2 separate regions of the Homo sapiens genome follow, and region 1 is linked to region 2. Evidence: fine-mapped expression QTL. A gene starts in region 2. The other region holds a variant in brackets. All regions are shown on one strand. Distances are between the middles of the regions.

What was found. PIP is the estimated chance that this variant, and not a neighbour inherited with it, causes the effect. A credible set is the group of variants that fine-mapping cannot tell apart.
Region 1: its variant is the best candidate, but not a certain one, in a credible set for the expression of TAMM41 in memory regulatory T cells (Schmiedel 2018, PIP 0.50).

The regions. Positions count from the first base shown.
Region 1 is chr3:11,783,768-11,788,159 of GRCh38, reverse strand. It overlaps a transcript of TAMM41 not described here. Among named protein-coding and RNA genes, the nearest start is that of TAMM41, 61 kb to the left of the region's middle. RefSeq lists an enhancer at 2,436-2,991. The variant G/AAATG (reference allele first, on the strand shown) is at 1,902.
Region 2 is chr3:11,844,447-11,848,826 of GRCh38, reverse strand. TAMM41 (TAM41 mitochondrial translocator assembly and maintenance homolog) reads left to right here and starts at 1,942. Exons shown (of 8, transcript NM_001284401.2): 1 at 1,942-2,325. The coding sequence starts at 2,191.

The DNA of each region.
Region 1 (4,392 bases), 61 kb after region 2:
CAGGGTCACTCTCCAGCTATGGAATCAGGCCTCTGGAGAGGAAGTGACTGCCTGGGGTCCCAACATATGTGAGTAACATTGCTGGGGCTTGAACCCTGGCTTCCAGACTCCAGTGTAGTGCCTTTTCTCACACAGCCTGCAGTTTTCACAAATGATGAATACTTGTGTCTTTGTGTTCCACTGCCCCAGATGTATTCTTCCTTTTCCTCAATCTAAGGTGATTCATCAAAAAGCCATATAAGGAGGAGAGGTAAGACTTTCTCTGAGGGAAGTGGAACTCTTCGGGAGTAAGTAGCTCTTCTCATTCCAGAAGGCTCAAGAAATAAATGTACTTTGGTGTCACACCTGGAGTTGGTTCTCAACTCTTTCCAGCTGTGTCCTTGGTCAAGTTGCTTAACCCTTCTGAACCTTAGTTTCTATATCTATGATGTAGGTATTCTTATACCCATCTGTCAGGTTTGGTGTTAGAATTAAATGACATAACGTAAATTACCTAACGTGGTTCTTGGCACATCATGATAGTATCTCTGCTATCCAGTTCAGATGGTGAGTTTAGATGGCATGGGATAGTCCCTCATATATTAGTCAGTCTAGTCAAGAAAATGGAAACAACCCTAAGTATATCAAATAGAAGGAATTTAATATAGGGAATTTGTTAGAAAGATGTTGGGAGGCTGGGAAACAAAAAAGAAGGGGTATCCTGGAGGAGGAAGAAGGGATGACGTGGAGAGAATCTGCACATCAGGACGCTGCTAACATCCCTGGACTGGAACTTACAAGCCCACACCTGCTGCTGTGTTGCTGGAGATGCTCCCTGTAGCGGTTTCAAAATATGTTCACAAATTCTTTGGCCCACCTCCTAGCAGTAGCATTCATTTTCCCTCCTTGAATGTCGGTGGGCCTTAGTGACTTGCTTCTAACAGGTAGAATATAACAGATGAGATGCTCTATGACTTCCAAGGCTAGGTCCTAAAAGGTGACACAGCTTCCTTCCGGCTCTCTCTCAGGACACTTGGCTTGCAACCCAGCCGCCATGTTGTGAGGGTGCCCAAGCCACTGGGAGAGGCCACATGGAGGTGTTCTGGCTGATGTCCAACATCAATTGCCAGACAAGTGAGTGAGCAAGCCTTTAACTCCAGCCCCAGCCACTGTGACTATGACAGAACAAGAGAGCCCAAGCAGGACCTGCCTAGCCAAGCCCAGTCAGCTTTTGGAAGTGTGAGGGAGAATAAGAAAATGATCATTGTCATTTAAAGTCATTGAGTTGTCCAGGCGTGGTGGCTCACACGTGTAATCCCAGCACTTTGGGAGGCTGAGGTGGGAAAATCGCTTGAGCCCAGGAGTTCAAGACCAGCCCAGGCAACATAGTGAGACTTCCGCATCTCTACAAAAACTTTAAAATATGGTAGCACACACCTGTAGCCCCAGCTACTCAGGAGGTTGAGGTGGGAGGATTGCTTGAGCCTAGAAGGTTGAGGCTGCAGTGAGCTGTGATTGTGCCACTGCACAATCTAGTCAAGAAAAATGAAAACAACCCTAAGTATAATAAATAGAAGGGGCTGGCTGCAGTGGCTCACGCCTGTAATCCCAGCACTTTGGGAGGCTGAGGCGGGTGGATCACGAGGTCAGGAGTTCGAAACCAGCCTGGCCAACATGGTGAAACCCCATCTCTACTAAAAATACAAAAATTAGCCAGGTGTGGTGGCTCATGCCTGTAATCCCAGCTACTCAGGAGGCTGAGGCAGGAGAATTGCTTGAACCTGGGAGGTGGAGGTTGCGATGAGCCAAGATCGTGCCACTGTACTCCGGCCTAAGTGACAGAGCAAGATTCCATCTCAAAAAATAATAATAATAATAATAATAATAATAATAAAATTAAATAAATAAATAAATAAATAAAT[G/AAATG]GAACTTAATGTAGGGATTTTGTTACAAAGATGTTGGGAGGGCTGGCAAACAAAAAAGAAGGGGTACCCTGGAGAAGGAAGGATTACGTGCAGAGAAGCTGCACATCAGGAAGCTGCTAACAGCCCTGTATTGGAACCTACAAGCCCACACCAGCCTGGGCACCAGAGCGAGACTCTGTCTCTCAAAAAGATTAAAAAGTCATTAAGTTTTCAGAAGACTTGTACACAGTTCAGAAGACTTGTACACAGCATTAGATACTGTATACAAGTCCTCTGAAAACTTATGCCTTTGCCACTGCTAGAGCTGCCAGAGTCACCACCACTGCCCAGATGCCACTTGGGCCAGGCACGGTGGCTAACACCTGTAATCCCAGCACTTTGGGAGGCCAAGGTGGGTGGATTGCTTGAGCTCAGGAGTTTGAGGCCCGCCTGGACAACATAGTGAGACCTCATCTCTACAAAAAGTAAACAAAAAATTAGCTGGGAGCAGTGGTGCGCACCCGTGGTCCCAGCTACTTGGGAGGCAGAGATGGCAGAATCACCTGAACCCCGGGAGGTCAAGGCTGCAGTGAGCGGAGATCGTGGCACTGCACGCCAGCCTGGGTGAGAGAGCGAGACTCTGACTGAAAAAAACAGGCTGGGCACGGTGGCTCACACCTGTAATCCCAGCATTTTGGGAGGCCGAGGTAGGTGGATGACGAGGTCAAGAGATCAAGACCATCCTGGCCAACATGGTGAAACCCCATCTCTACTAAAAATACAAAACTTAGCTGGGCATGGTAGGGGGTGCCTGTAGTCCCATCTACTCAGGAGGCTGAGGCAGGAGAATCACTTGAACCCAGGAGGTGGAGGTTGCAGTGAGCCAAGATTGCGCCACTGCACTCCAGCCTGGTGACAGAGCAAGACTCCATCTCAAAACAAAACAAAACAAAAACAAAAACCAGATGCCACTTGACAACCACCAGTAACTGCTGCTGCAGTTGCAGACAAACCCAGGAACTTCTCTTCCTCCTATCTTCTGATCTGACACCACGGTCTCCAATCAGCAAAACCTAATAGAAAGCCAGCTGGTGAGAAACCTGGGCAACATAGTTTGCAGGCTCCTACCCAGCAGTAGAGAGTGGAGTACAGAGGAATGGCCGAGCTCACCAGAGAAACACCTCCCTGTGGTGACTGAGCATCCAGATCCACCCTTCAATCATATGTAAATTTCCATACACCAGCAGCAGCTTCCTGTTTCCACCCAACGTGATGCAGCTATCCTTTGTACAAAAGAAAATGCTCTCAAATTAGCCAGGGGTGGTGGCGGGCACCTGTAGTCCCAACTACTTGGGAGGCTGAGGCTGGAGAATCACTTGAACCCGGGAGGCGGAAGTTGCAGTGAGCCACGATTGCGCCACTGCACTCCACCCTGGGGGACAGAGCGAGACTCCTCCTCCTCAAAAAAAAAAAAAAAAAAAAAGAAAAGAAAAGAAGTGTTCTCACTTTTCTGGCAGGAAAGAGTAAACAAAGTCCCTACAGTTACTGTATTCATCTGTGGGTGATGTTAATGCCTCTTTTAATTAGAATCCCAACTGGATTTTGTATAATTTAGAAACTAGCCTATAACATTAACCACCACCCACTCTCCTCATAGAAAATAGTTGAAGGGAAGGGGTTAAAAATACCCGTGTGCCTGTCCGTGAGTATGTATATACACATTACCACGCAAGGAAGGAAATATGCCTACCTTTTTTGTTTTGGTTTTGGTTTCTTTTGTTTTTTGAGACAGAGTCTTGCTCTGTTGCCCAGGCTGGAGTGCAGTGGCACGATCTTGGCTCACTGCAACCTCCACCTCCCAGGTTCAAGTGATTCTCCCACCTCAGCCTCCTGAGTAGCTGGGATTACAGGCTCACACCACCACACCTGGCTAATTTTTTGTATTGTTAGTAGAGACAGGGTTTCACCATGTTGACCAGCTGGTCTCAAACTCCTGAACTCAAGTGATCTGCCCTCCTCGGCCTCCCAAAGTGCCAGAATTACAGGCATGAGCCACCACATCATTTTTTAAAAAGGTTATGATATCACAGTAGATACGGCATCTTTCTCCCTTTACTCATTCTGTGTTCCTGTTGCCCTCAGCCTGTACTTCATTTGGGCAGAGTTCCTTACCTGGTTGGGGCCCAAATCTCCACTACTGAAGAGCTGTCCCTATGGGTCCTGTCTGTATCGGGTTGTTGTAGTCTTTAACTTTTATTGAACATGGTTCCACATTTTACATTTTGAGTAATGAGAATTTGATAGTGCTTACTATTTGGAGCAATGTTTCTTGTATTAACTCATTCATCCTTACACAACCCAATAAGGCAAATACTATTATTCTAACTTTACAAATCAGGAAACAGGCTCAAAGAGGTTAAGTACCTTGCCTAAAGTCACACAGCTAGTTAAGTGGTAGAACCAGGATTCAAGCCCATGTTTGAATGGTCTGAATCCGGTCTCAGTGCTCTTA
Region 2 (4,380 bases):
TACTGCTCCTCTTAGGACCTCTGTTTCCTCGTATGAAAAATATCATCATCTTAGAGAACCTGCCTCATAGGATCTCTGGAGTGATGAAAAGAAACAAGTATAAAAAGCCTGGGTGCAGTGGCTCACGCCTGTAATTCCAGCACTTTGGGAGGCTGAGGTGGGCAAATCACTAGAGGTCAGGATTTCGAGACCAGCCTGGCCAACACAGTGAAACCCCATCTCTACTAAAAATACAACAATTAGCCAGGCATGCTTGCTTGAACCCAGGAGGCAGAGGTCACAGTGAGCTGAGATCGTGCCACTGCACTCCAGCCTGGGCAACAGAGCAAGACTCGGTCTCAAAAAAAAAACAAAAACAGAAAAGCCCCAAAGAAGTCTAAAAAGTGCCTGGGCATACTAAGTGCTTAATAATGACACCTATTATTAGTATTATTGTCACCGAGTCCTTTCAATTCTTTCTTGGTTGAATTTTCCCATCTATCTTCTACCTGATAAACTCCTACCCAGCTTCCAGGCCTGGCTCAAAATGCCATCATTGTGAAACCTCTTCTGGTCCCTTTCCCCAACACCCAGAACTGACTGACGTTCCCATTGGAGGGACATTACATTCCGGCACTGTGCTGGGTACCTGGCTGCATTACCCAAATTCTACTCTGATTTGCAGTTCTGTCTCCTCTCCTCTACAGACCCCTAGCTCCTGCAGGGCAGCAGGCAGCTCAGATCTCTTCATCTCAGTGCAGGCCCAGAGTGTGAGTGCAAGTAATCATTTTTCCAATTGATTTAATCCCATCCCTGCTCCTAAGACCTTGGCCTAGCCGTTTCCAGTTCATGGGGGAACTATGATAACAACTGTCTAATCAGTCCCCCACAATTCAGGCTAACATGTGAATTACATAAGTCCTTGCTCAAAACCCTTCAAGGACAGAGCAGAATTTCCGAAAAAATCCCAGAGTTGGAGCCAGACCTGGGTTTAGCTCTAGTTTTGCCACAGGCTGATGTGATCCTATCACCTGGCTTTACCTCTCTAAGCCTTAGCTTGGCCATCAGTAAAACCAAGGCCCTCCTGCCACAGGGCACTAGAGGGTGCTCAGTGAGAAGTGCATGTGAAAATGTGTCAACATTACCTGAATGTTAGCTATTACTATTTCTATTATTTTTGAGAGGTAGTGTATTTTGGGGAGGAAGGAGAGGGTAGTTGAAAAAGTTTCTGTCCTGGAAGTCAAACCACCTCCTGAATGGTAATCTTCAGCAAGTTTCTCCAGTTATACAAAGAGGAGAGCTGTAAGATTTTTCTACTCCTAGGGTCCTGTTTCCTCCAGAAACTGCATTTGAAGCACCCTTTGTGAGACCATTCCACAAGGCAAGGGGGCAAAAACTGTGATCCACCCTTGAAATTAAATGCAAGTATCAGAGAACGTCTGTGCACTCCCATATCCACCCTTGTATTTGAAAAGGGCTTTAGCGTGAAGAAGTCTCCGTCAAATCTTGACGGTGGTATTCTCTACATGGCGGGATTGGGCATCATTTTAATTTTGTGTTTTTCCAAATCTTCGAAATCTGCAATTTTGGAACTAGAGCGATGATGGGGGCACAATATTGTGAAGGCACTACATGCTACTACACTGTCCATTTCAGAACGGCTAGTTCCATATTATGTGAGTGTCGCCTCACTTAAAAACCTTCAATACGCTCCCGATTTTATAGTCATTCTTTAAACCGTAGTTTGAAGAGAGAAGTACAGAGGCTATCAAGGCTCAGGGCCCGCGGAGTCGGGTGACGCTCGCCTCCGCCGATTTGTCCAAGTCGCAACCTAGCCGCCAGCCTGTAGGGCACTCCTCCGACCACGAGGGGACAATGCAAAGCCTCGCGTTCCCCACACTAAGGCGAGCACCGCCTCTTGCGTCTTGGAAGCGCCTGTGCGTGCGTGGGGCGTAGCAAGGGACGGAAGCTCTGCCTGTGCGACCGCCGCCCACCCGAGCCTATCTGGGCTGCGTCTTCTCGCCGCTGCTCTTCGTGGCCCAACGCCCCAATCCTTGCGTGTGCTTGCAGTCCCACCCCACACTCAGCCTTGTGTCCCTCGATCCAGTCTCCGACTTCCATTTCCCACCCTAAACCGCCTACCCGGTGTCTGTTCCCCGCCCGGTTGTCCTCGCCCTGCTGCGCTGAGTGTCCCCTGTTAGCCTCGACCCCATGGCGCTGCAGACGCTGCAGAGCTCGTGGGTGACCTTCCGCAAGATCCTGTCTCACTTCCCCGAGGAGCTGAGTCTGGCTTTCGTCTACGGCTCCGGGGTGTACCGCCAGGCAGGGCCGAGTTCAGACCAGAAGGTGAGCCCGGGCAGCCCCACGACGGGGAACTGTCTGTTCTCACGAGTCCCGTTTTGCCCTCGATTCCTTCAGAGTCGGAGAGCTGCCTGTCCGCTCTGCACACTCCACGTGTCCACTAGCAGAGTGAACCATAGGCCTGCCTTCCTAGTATAACGACAGCGCGAGTTGAAGCGACGGTGTTGAAGGATACTTAGGAATCCACGTGGGTCTAGAGCAGGAGAAGCAGTTAGGCAGAAGGAAAAACTGCTGCAGGGGCAAATGGAAGAAAGGAAAAGAAATCGTTATCAGGTTCTTTCAGTGTTTTAGTCGGCTGGACATCGGAATTTTCTGGGGAGCTTTTAAGAAAATCCTAATGCTCGGCTTCCGCCGATGGAGATTCTGATTTAATTGGTTTGGGATGAGGCCTGGGCTTCAGGAATTTAAGAAACGTCCCAGGTGATTCTAATGCGCAGCCAAGTTTGTTGAGAGTCACCTCTATAAATGTAGGAGAAAATGCAAAATGATCTTCTGACTTCAGGAAGTTGGCGGACTGGTTGTAGGGCCAGGGCAGGTGCAGTGAAAGTAACTAACATCAAAAGTTAGTGCGTGACCAGTGTATTTACCCTCGCTCAGCACTTTTAACAACGGTCTGTTTGAGACTAGGCATTGTTACTTTTCAGAGTTGGCTCAGCACAGCCTCAGTAAGGGTACAGTTTTCCTTGTAATTTGCAGAATTCAGTGTGCAGGTTTTAATGGGGCCCCCTGCGTCTGGATACCTGACTGTAGTCTGTCTTCTGATTAACATCCTGCCTGTTCACTTCCTGGTGAGGCCATCTATGCTGTTGCTTGGATTTCCTCTGTTTCCCACTTACACTACTATTTAATATTTTTCTTTAAATTGGCAGCATATGAGAAATTATAGGTTATTATAGGCTAGTTATTTTTCCCGAATTTACCTTAACATAATTACACATTTTTAAAAAACATGTTTATTCCATACCTGCCTCGCCACCAAATCTCAAGTGTCCCCAGTGGTCTGTAGAGTCACACTCTACAGAGCAGGCGTTAGCCTCCTGATGGCCACCTCTTCATTCTTCCATGGAGGTTTTCCTTTGAATAGACCTGGAATTCCCTGCAAGAAAAGGTCCTTCCTTCCCATTCCCTCACTTTTGATTCCTTACATTCAAGTGAACAAGTTGTAGATTCCAACACCTACATCTTTCTCACATCAGTCCCCATCCTTAGCGCCTTAGCTAATATAATTTCATTTCTCCCCTGGAATCTTGCCATGGCTTCAGATCTAATTCCCCCACCCCCTTAGTCCCTCTTCTCTCCAGTCAGCTCTTCTGCAGGAAAATTTTCTAGCATGGCAAACAGCCTCCCTCTCTGATCTCATCTCCCACCGCATAAATGTGTTCTATTTCAGTCATATCTGACGGCAGCTTCCAGAACATGCTGGCTCCCATATCCACAGAGCACTTTCCTCCAACACGGCTCCCTACCCTTCCCTGTGCTTCCCCCAGTGCTTCCAGCAAGTCTGTTTAACTCACGTGTCCTTCAAGACTCAGATTTGTCATCTCTAGGAGAATTTCTCCCTCCTGTGCCCCTGATCTGATCCCTATGCTGAGTGCAGTTAGTACATTTTGCATTCCTCTATCAAGTCAATGTAGTGATAATTTGTTTATTCTCTCCAGTAGACTCTGAGCTCTATACTTCTACCCTAGGGCCTGTCAGAGTTCATTACTTATGTACTCAATAAGTGGTTGGTGAATAGGTAAGAGATAAAATAACTGACTTCCTTTTATATAGTATTTTGTAGAGTTTATCCAGGTGGTGCTAATTTGATCCAGAAGAAAAGCGGAGCACATTTAGCTACATTTGTGAAAGGCAGTGTAGTGCAGTGGTTCAGCACACACAGTTTGGAGCCAGACCTCTTAGGTCTGCCACTCACAAGCTCTGTGTCCTTGGGCAAAGAGCATCCCCTGTGCCTTGGTTTCTTATAAAATTGAGATAATAGCAGTAGCTACCTTGTAGGGTTGTGCTGAGGATAAATGGAGTGACTGCGTATGTTACCCA